2 linked regions of the Homo sapiens genome follow. The protein of the gene in region 2 purifies or fractionates together with the protein of the main gene of each other region. This does not show direct contact. Each region holds a gene or a part of one and is shown on either strand. Other genes may lie near its edges.

Region 1 (4,351 bases), on a different chromosome or scaffold from region 2:
TTAGCATGATCTCGGCTCACTGCAATCTCTGCCTCCTGGGTTCAAGCGATTCTCCTGCCTCAGCCTCCTGAGTAGCAGCTGGGATTATAGGCACGTGCCACCACGCCAGGCTAATTTTGTATTTTTAGTAGAGATGGGGTTTCGCCATGTTGGTCAGGCTGGTCACAAACTCCTGACCTCAGGTGATCTGCCCACCTCAGCCTCCCAAAGTGCTGGGATTACAGCCATGAGCCACCTTGCCTGGCCCCTGGTCGCACGTTTATTGGTTTCTTGTATTCACTTCCAGTGTTTCTTTCTGCCAGTATAAGCAAATGTGGGTCTATATCCTCTTTCTCTCCTTTTTCATACAAAAGGAGGACTCCCATATCCACGCTCTGCACCTTGGAGATCTGTCCAGGTCAGCTCATGGAGGCCCCTCACACTTTAGTTTGCTATGCCACAAATCAGTTGTGTCCTGCTTTGTGGCTCTGGGATGGATGAGATGTGCTTCCTTTTTTGCAGCCCCAGTGGACCACCTGCATTTGCCGCCCACCCCTCCGAGCAGTCACGGCAGTGACTCAGAGGGCAGCCTGAGTCCCAACCCACGCCTGCACCCCTTCAGCCTGCCTCAGACCCACAGCCCCTCCAGAGCTGCACCCCGGGCCCCCTCCGCCCTCTCCAGCTCCCCTCTCCTCACGGCTCCTCATGTAAGTATGCAGCGGGCATTCCTGGACCAAAGGGAACCCTCTCCATTCATTCCCCTGGGGCTGTATCCAGAGCAGGACCACTCAAGGCTGTTTGGTTTTTACTTTTGTCAAGAAGTTTCTGCTTAATGGCGAAAGCAGAGTGATGTCAACCCTAAAGAACACTTTCTAGGAACTGCCCGCACATCTCACCTTTTACTACCACAATTCTCTTCCTTTTCACATGCACACTTCCAGTTTTTATTCATATGTTTATTTTACAGAGCTATAGACATGAGGAATAAAAATTTGGGGTTTTTCTCCTCAAAGTTCTATCATAAATATTTGCATTAATTTAATGGTCCTTGTGACCTATGTCATAGGAAATACCTTTTATATTTTAAAGAAGCAATTTTTGGTGAACTTAAAAATTACTCTGAGATTAATTTCTTTGATGCCTAAAGGTCAAAAACAGTTTAAGCCTTTTCTGTGTGTCATATGACTCTTAACCCAGAAACTCAGATCAGACATCAAGACCCCTCGTTCATCCCTCCCATACATGAGGACACCATAATAAAGAAGAATAGATCGTTAACTCCTTATTGTTCTAGGAGTGAATTGATTTCTATGAAATTTTAAAAATTATAATCAGCTATTTTGAATTCACAATCTCACAACTAGAAAATTTAAATGAAATGAGATGTTTTAAAATTCTGTAAGTACCATCCGTCCATTAATTAACATAACTTTGAAAATTTGTATTGATTCTGTCCCTGAAAGTTCTAGATCTGCAACCACATTCTTAAATTTCATCGTTACTGAGGACAAGGGAATTCACCCTTCCACTCTTTCTTCACCTTTTCACCTTGAACCTGACTTCACTCCTTGGATTACTAGAATAGCTTGTATCCTATATACCTGTGTGTACTACTATGATCTGTCCATTCTACATGTTTATGGAGGAACTCTTCCCCATGTCGGATGCTTGCCCAACAACTATGTTGTATTTCCCTGTTACTTGTTGGTACCAAGCCCTGACACCTTTACTCATTATCAGGTATCCAACCCTCCGCTGCTTCAAGAACTCCTTACCCACACTAGGCAGTGGCTTCTTCAGTGACTTTTCAAAATACTGCCTTTTGCTTAGAATGCACTCCTCTCTCTTATGTAAATCATCCCCTTTCTTTCAGGAGGCCCAATTCAAATCTCATCTCCTGCCCTAAACGTTTCCTGATCACACAACTCATAGTAGTGTTCTCTTACTTCAAATTTTTAGTACACCTTTAGCTAATGTATTAGTCCATTTTCATGCTGCTGATAAAGACATACCCGAGATTGGGCAATTTACAAGAGAAAGAGGTTTAATTGGACTTACAGTTCCACGTGGCTAGGGAAACCTCACAATCATGGTGGAAGGCGAGGAGGAGCAAGTCATGTCTTACATGGATGGCAGCAGGCAAAGAGAGAGCTTGTGCAGTGCAACTCCTGTTTTTTAAAACCATCAGATCTTGTGAGATTCATTCACTCTCACAAAAGCAGCATGGGAAAGACTCACCCCATAATTCAGTCATCTCCCACTGGGTCCCTCCCACAACACGTGGGAATTATGGGAGCTATAAAATGAGATTTGGGTGGGGACACAGAGCCAAACCATATCAGCTAAGATTACAGTTTAGCATTTAATTACTCTTATCCTTTCATGGGTATCAGTTCAGTCTCACAGTCTTGATCACAAGCTGCTTGAGAGGTAGGGTTTGTTTTGAGTCCTCCATGGCATTTAGTATGGAGCTAAAATGCAATAGGGACTCTGTTTGATTAATTATAAACATGCCATTCTACTGTGGGTTCCATGAGATGTGCTACTGTTCTTGTCTTCATTGTTGATGGACATTCTGAGACTGCTGAAGCCAGAGGCTTCTGTGGAAAGAGTCTGCAGATGTGTCCCTGGGTGCTCTGCACTCTTAGCTAAAAGTGGAGGAGAGAATTGACTCCTGTTGTGTAGAGAGCACCTTATAAAACTGCATTTTCAGAAGGAGAACAACAAAATTCTTGCACAAAGCAGGGCTGCAAATGAATCCTTCATCACTCCAAGGCCAGGAAATCTCTAGGGATGTGGGAAATGACTTCTCTGCTTTTTCTTTTCATGTTTTAGCGAGTAGGGTGCTTCCCGGGAAATAATGGGTGGAGGCTTCTTTATTCTTTCCCTTGAATTATAATCCCTAGGTTATAACACTCACATGGGGGTGTCTTCCCCATCTTCCCATGCCCTTCAAAATACCCATCTGTCACCCAAAGCAGATGGGGCATCCTTGTCTCAGAGCCTTCTGTAAGACATTGTAACAGATTCTCATCATCCCATTGGGAGGTGATTCTTCAGTGGTCCCAGTTCTTTTTCTTTGACCCTTTTCTGCTCCTTGGTCTGCACAGAAACTGCAGGGATCAGGCCCTCTGGTCCTGACAGAGGAGGAGAAGAGGACCCTGATCGCTGAGGGCTATCCCATCCCCACCAAATTGCCCCTGTCAAAATCAGAGGAGAAGGCCCTGAAGAAAATTCGGAGGAAGATCAAGAATAAGGTGAGCTCTTCAAATCTAGGCACTTCTAGAGCAGAGACGAGCAGAATCGAGTCAGCATCCCTTTCCCTGCCTTCCCAACGGCCAGCACTACCCCATCCCATGGTGGAGACCAAGGCCCAGCCCTTCCCTTCCCTAAGCCCTGGGAGGAGCACCCTCACCACGTGCCCCTCTCTTCCTCCAGCCCATCCCATCCCTCTTGAGGCCAGCAGACTCCCAGATCAGTATCTACCTCTTTGGTGCCCACGATGATACATTTACGGGTGGGAGGAAGCTATTAGAATTTCCATCTAGTTTTTTTTTTTTTTTTTTAACTCAGCCTTTTAAATTTTGGGTGTATGATATATACAATAGTTTCCTCTAGTAGACATATATATGTACTCTATGTATCTATATAAAATACAGCATATATATATATTATATATATATAAGATACAAATACATTGCAAGTGCTTGGTTAATTTTTTTTTTTCTTGGTAGGGTTTTGTGATCACAAAACTTCTGCAGTTTGCTGGTCTATATTTGGACTCAGTAGTCTCCTACCCCTGGGCCCCTCAGTGCTGAGCAGGCCTGATGAAAACCAGGGGGATGGCTGAGGCACAGGCCTACCAGGAGGGAGGGGGCAAAGAGGGAAGGAAGACAAGAGCTTAGTGTCACTCTATCCATGTGCGGAACCAGCAGCAAGTTGATGTATGACCAAGCCAGCTGTCTTATTTTATATATGTACTTCAGCCAGCAGAGGTCCAGGAGTTAAACTCATTTATCTGAGACCACACTGATGGTTTGTGAGCCACATGTTCTGGCCTGGCTCTTCACTCAGTGTCCATTGTTTTCTTTTCTTTTCTTTCTTTCTTTTTTTTTTTTTTCATACAGAGTCTCACTCTGTCACCCAGGCTGGAGTGTAGTGGCATGATCTCGGCTCACTGCAACCTCTGCCTCCCAGGTTCAAGTGATTCTCCTACCTCAGCCTCCCAAGCATCTGGAACCACAGACGTGTGCCACCATGCCCGGCTAATTTTTTTGTTTTTTGTTTTTTGTTTTGAGATGGAGTCTCTCTCTGTCACCTAGGCTGGAGTGCAGTGGCACAATGTCAGCTCACTGCAACCTCTGCCTCCCGG
Region 2 (5,203 bases):
CTCATGATCCGCCCGCCTCGGCCTCCCAAAATGCTAGGATTACAGGCATGAGCCACTGCGCCCGGCCTGTATTTCATAATTTTTTAAAGTCTTGTTTTCTTAAGTGCTAGCATCTGTAACAGCATCAGCCAAACTTATGAAGAAAAGACCAGAAGAGCCACTAAAGGAAGATGGGTCTCAAAGGCTGATGAGAACTGTGATAAATAAGGAGCAACACTCAAATCCTGAACCACCAAATAAACTTTCTTCTCAGGATTTCTCCAAAAGAACATTTGACAAAGTGGAAAAAAAAAAATCAGCCATATGGTTTCACAAAGGGTTGTTCTAAGATCTTCAAGTAAATTAAAATCTCAATTATAAACAGAGGGGCAGACAGTTTTTGTTTGTTTTTAAGATGGGGTCTCACTCTGTTGCCCAGGCTGGAATACAGTGGTGCCATCATAGCTCACTGCAGCCTCAAACTCCTGGGCTCGAGCAATCATCCCGCCTCAGCCTCCTAAGATGCTGGGGCTATAGGTGTGCACCACCATGCCCGGCATAGCAGGGAAAGGAAAATATCTTTAGCTTCATTACAGTTTTAGGAGGAGAGATAAGGCATATAAACTTTAAAATCCCAGCAAGAAAAAAAAAAAAACAAAAAAACCCACAGCATTGTTTTACCAAATAGGGAAGCAACCAAAAAAAGCATTGCACACTTTTGGAGGCCGAGGCAGGCAGATCACTTGAGGTCAGGAGTTCGAGACCAGCCTGGCCAACATGTTGAAATCCTGTCTCTACTGAAAAAACAAAAAGTAGCCAGGCATGGTGGCACATGCCTGTAATCCCAGCTACTCGGGAGGCTGAGGCAAGAGAATCACTTGAACCCGGGAGGTGGAGGTTGCAGTGAGCTGAGATCACGCCACTGCACTTCAGCCTAGGTGACAGAGTGAGACTCTGTCTCAAAAAAGAAAAAAGGAAAAAAAAAAAAGCAAAAAAAAAGCATTGCAAACATTGTGACAAAATGAGAGGGGGGAATTTACTCCCTTGAAATCTAGGAGGAGCTATCCATACTGTAAACTCATTCTTCTGTTAAGTGTCCTTCAAAACCAGAGGAAAATAATGTGACCAATGAAGAAGCACTGGACCTGTTGCTATAACTGTTGAAAGGAAGGAAGGAAGGATTTGGAAAATCTGGACATTCAAAAATACCAACGCTAAAAATCCACACTACCCAGTCTGGCTGTCATACTCACTTTTATTTCTTGCCTTCCTCACCAACTTTTTTTTTTTTTTTTAAGGTAACAGAAGTTAAAGTAAAATCCACAAATGGGGTAATAAACACCCAAGAAGGTAGGCAGGTCTCATTCTATACCTCTACTGAGAATTGCTATGAAAAGGAAGCTGCCAGAAAACCTGGCTTTGTCCTGCATTAAACAATGGAGCCCAGAGGAGACGCTTAGCCTGGAGCAGTGGGAACATGAAGTATAATATAACAAATCCTTCTGAAAACACTGTAGCTTTATTTCTTTAACAACACTGCAGTCTGAACATGAAGTAAAACCAACGGATACTCTGAGGATGAGTGGGACAGACCATGTGCTCAGAGAAGCTTAGTTTGAATAAACATAGCCCCAATTTCAAACCTTGGACTGTTTTCTCCAAACAAAGGGTCAGTGATAACAGCATCAAGCCCAACTTCAGACTCAGAGGGTTGGTGGGGAGGTTACAGATGTCAGGCTGAAGCCTCATTTCTACCTGTTTTTTCATCAGTCAAGAAATGAAAATACACAGGTGACAAATGAAAGACATTCAAAATACCAGCAGGAAATAAGACATTGACTCAAATCCAAGAAGGGAACCTGCCCTAAATTGCAAACTGAAAGAGAGAAAAACTTGGAAAGCAGTAGTGCTCTTCCACTTTGAAATGAGTGAGGCCAAGTAGGTGAGAGGAGGTTTCGAAAGACAACTCCCAGCCTGAAGAGGCTGGGCTATTTTTAGACAGTAAATGAAGAGGTGTTGGGTCCAGGGAGAGAAGCATCCTCTCTCTCCAGTGAGAATCACTTTGAAGGCTGAGGGCAGCTGCAGGCACCGGAAGGAGGGATGAAATGGTGATCAAAGAAACAAAACTAGGAGAACATTGACATTTTTCATTGTATACCACCTGTTGTGAGGATCTCAAGACACTTCACAAGCCTTATTTCAAGAGACCTCAGAGACAGAAAATTCAACAAGAGCTTTGAAGGTCATTCACAAAGGCTGGTGAGGGGCATAGCTGCTGGCCACAGGGACATCCACTCTTAGTCATCTATTCTATGTGGAGAACTCAGAGCGTGTGTATTGAACACTAAGAAATGACTGGAGCCTGGCGCAGAGGCAAGCACCACTAGTCCCAGCTACTCAGAAAGGCAGGGGCTGGGCATGGTGGCTCATGCCTGTAATCCCAGCACTTTGGGAGGCTGTGGCAGGAGGAGCCCTTGAGGCCAGAAGTTTGAGACCAGCCTGAGCAACATCGTAAGACTCTGTCTCTACAAAAAACAAAAATAACTGGCCGGGCGTGGTGGCTCATACCTGTAATCCCAGCACTTTGGGAGGCTGAGGCAGGCAGATCACGAGGTCAGGAGTTTGAGACCAGCCTGACCAACATGGTGAAACACCGTTTCTACTAAAAATAAAAAAATTAGCCCGGCGTGGTGGCACGCGCCTGTAATCCCAGCTACTCAGGAGGCTGAGGCAGGAGAATCGCTTGAACCCGGGAGGCAGAGTTTGCAGTGAGCCGAGATCACGCCACTGTACTCCAGCCTGGGCAACAGAGCAAGACTCCGTCTCGAAAAAAATGAGTATGTTTCCCCAATACCAAATCATATATGCGTTCAAACACTGAGCAAAAGCTGAAATTAGAGTATTGCCACTTTTTCTCCTTCATGAAACCCACCCAACCAAACTCTTCTTAGAGTCACTTCTCAAAAGGCTCGAAGTACCACCACACAACTATACAGGAAAAAAACTTGGGGAAACAAATAGAGAAAGAAGAATTAGATTTACAATTAAAAAAACACAACTAGAAGAAAGTCATCTTACCCATTGTTTCCAGAAGGAATAATATAACCTAGATCAGATTAATGGCTCTTAAGGAGGAGGACGATCTCAATACCTCCTTCAGTTACTTTTTAAAAATCTAGCAACCCTCCAGCACAGACAATCCTTTTGTAACCCTAACTTAAATCTTGCCTGCTGGGCTTTGGTCCATTTCTATCCTTTGTCCTTGAAAACAAGCCCAGCTCCCTCCACATAAAAATCTTTCAGAAACTTTCAGAGGAGGAGGGTTAGCTATCAAGAACACATACATTTGCTTCTTAAGGAAAACACAGCCCAACTTAGAGATGAGAGGCAGGAAATGACAAGTCTACAGGATTTGAACTTGGGTATTTACTGATAACTTCAAGTCACACTTCACCAAGACTAAGCTGATTTAGCATAAAACTTTAAATCAGTCTTTTCCAATGTACTCCACTGAAGAGACTCCCCTCCCTCTGAAAAAGCTTAATAAAAATCTCAGCACTCATCTACTCTTTGATGTAACTTAAATCTCCACCTCCACTGGCTCTCTCACACCAGCTTTTAGCCATATTTTTAACTAGGTCTCCCCTGAATTAAGAACCCTTTACTGAGCACTGCTTTCTGCATACGTGGACTTCTTCTCTCTTATGTTCTTCACACCTAATTAGGCTGCATCTCTACTTCTTTGTCACCATTTTATTAATCGTAGTTTTGATCTCTCTTCTAAAGAGGTCATAAATTCCTCCTGATTATTTTATTCACCTGGATGTCCAAGTTTATCCCGCACTATATTTGACATCTTTAAATTAGTCTCATTTATTTTTTTTAGTACTTACTGCCTATCTTACACTGTCCTAAACGGTGTGATGTAAAGGAAATAAAGAGCATGACCCCGATCCTTAGGAAATGAAGACATACATAAAATAACAATAAGATATTGGTTTCAAGGTGGGGGACTAGTCACAGAAAGCCCTGTGGCTCTGATAAATACAGAATTGGACCTAAAAATAAGTGTACAATTTGGTGTAAAGGAGAAGGCTACTTTAGATAGAAAGAACAGTATAATTCAAAGCAGGAGGCCATCTGAAGTAAGAGCTGCATAAAAGCTTTCTGACATTTCCTTCTTTGCCCCCCAAAAGGGGCATGTACCTTTTTGTCTTCAAATTTTATTTGAGAATTAGCTATCCATGAATCACAAATTTCCTGTTATCATGATTACTCACAGCCACCACATGTTAGAGCAACTCACAGAGCTTAATACACTAGAGTAATCACAAGGCAGGCTTTTAGAATAATCTCAGGTAGAGACCTTTTACTAAGGAGTGTGGGGAGTCTGGCATCTCTAGGGTCCTGGGCGCACAAAGACAGCTACTCCTCTTGGGTGCTAAAGATATGCACCAGTCATTTTGCTGCCAGACCATTCAAGGGTCATTCAACTTCAGCTAAGTATTTCTTTCATACACAGCTTCAGGACAGACAAAGCCATCTAAAGCAGTCTGAAGCACTGAATTCCTATTTTAAACAGGGAATGGTAAATGGTCTTGCCAGGGATGCCCCTTTTCCACTGTTTTCCTGGAGAGCTCTTCTCCACCTGCCTTAGGACTCACAGTTCAAGCATCCCTTCCTCTGTGAAGCCTTTCCTTTTTTTTTTTTTTTTGAGACGGAGTCTTGCTCTGTTACCCAGGCTAGAGTGCACTGGCAGGATCTGAGCTCACTGCAACCTCAGCCTCCCGGGTTCAGGCGAGTCTCCTGCCTCAGCCTCCCGAGTAGCTGGGATTACAGACATGCACCACCACGCCCGGCTAATTTTTGTATTTTTAGTAGAGATGAGGTTTCACCATCTTGACCAGGCTGGTTTCGAACTCCTGACCTAGTGATCCATCCGCCTTGGCCTCCCAAAGTGCTGGGATTACAGGGGTGAGCCACCATGCCTGGCCTGTGAAGCCTTTCCTAATTCCTCTGAACTGACTTAGGTCGCCTCCCCTGTGCTTCCATTAACAACGTACACATACTTCTACAGCAGCACTTACCACACCGTGTTTTAATTGTTTACATGTCTGACTAGCCATAAGCTCTTTGATGGCAAGGGTAATGTTTTACCCATCACTGATTGCACACTTCATAGGCACTCAATAAACACTTGTTAAATGCATTAATAATGGATGAT

What was found.
Region 1: the proteins of MAPKBP1 (region 2) and CREB3L2 purify together in Homo sapiens (co-immunoprecipitation; one large-scale study listed by IntAct). This does not show direct contact.

What each region holds. Positions count from the first base shown.
Region 1 is NC_000007.14:137,904,587-137,908,937, reverse strand, and holds part of CREB3L2 (cyclic AMP-responsive element-binding protein 3-like protein 2), read left to right. Parts: intron 1-501; coding exon 502-686; intron 687-3,089; coding exon 3,090-3,236; intron 3,237-4,351. UniProt on the Homo sapiens protein: Transcription factor involved in unfolded protein response (UPR).
Region 2 is NC_000015.10:41,776,831-41,782,033, reverse strand, and holds part of MAPKBP1 (mitogen-activated protein kinase-binding protein 1), read right to left. Parts: intron 1-5,203. UniProt on the Homo sapiens protein: Negative regulator of NOD2 function. It down-regulates NOD2-induced processes such as activation of NF-kappa-B signaling, IL8 secretion and antibacterial response. Involved in JNK signaling pathway.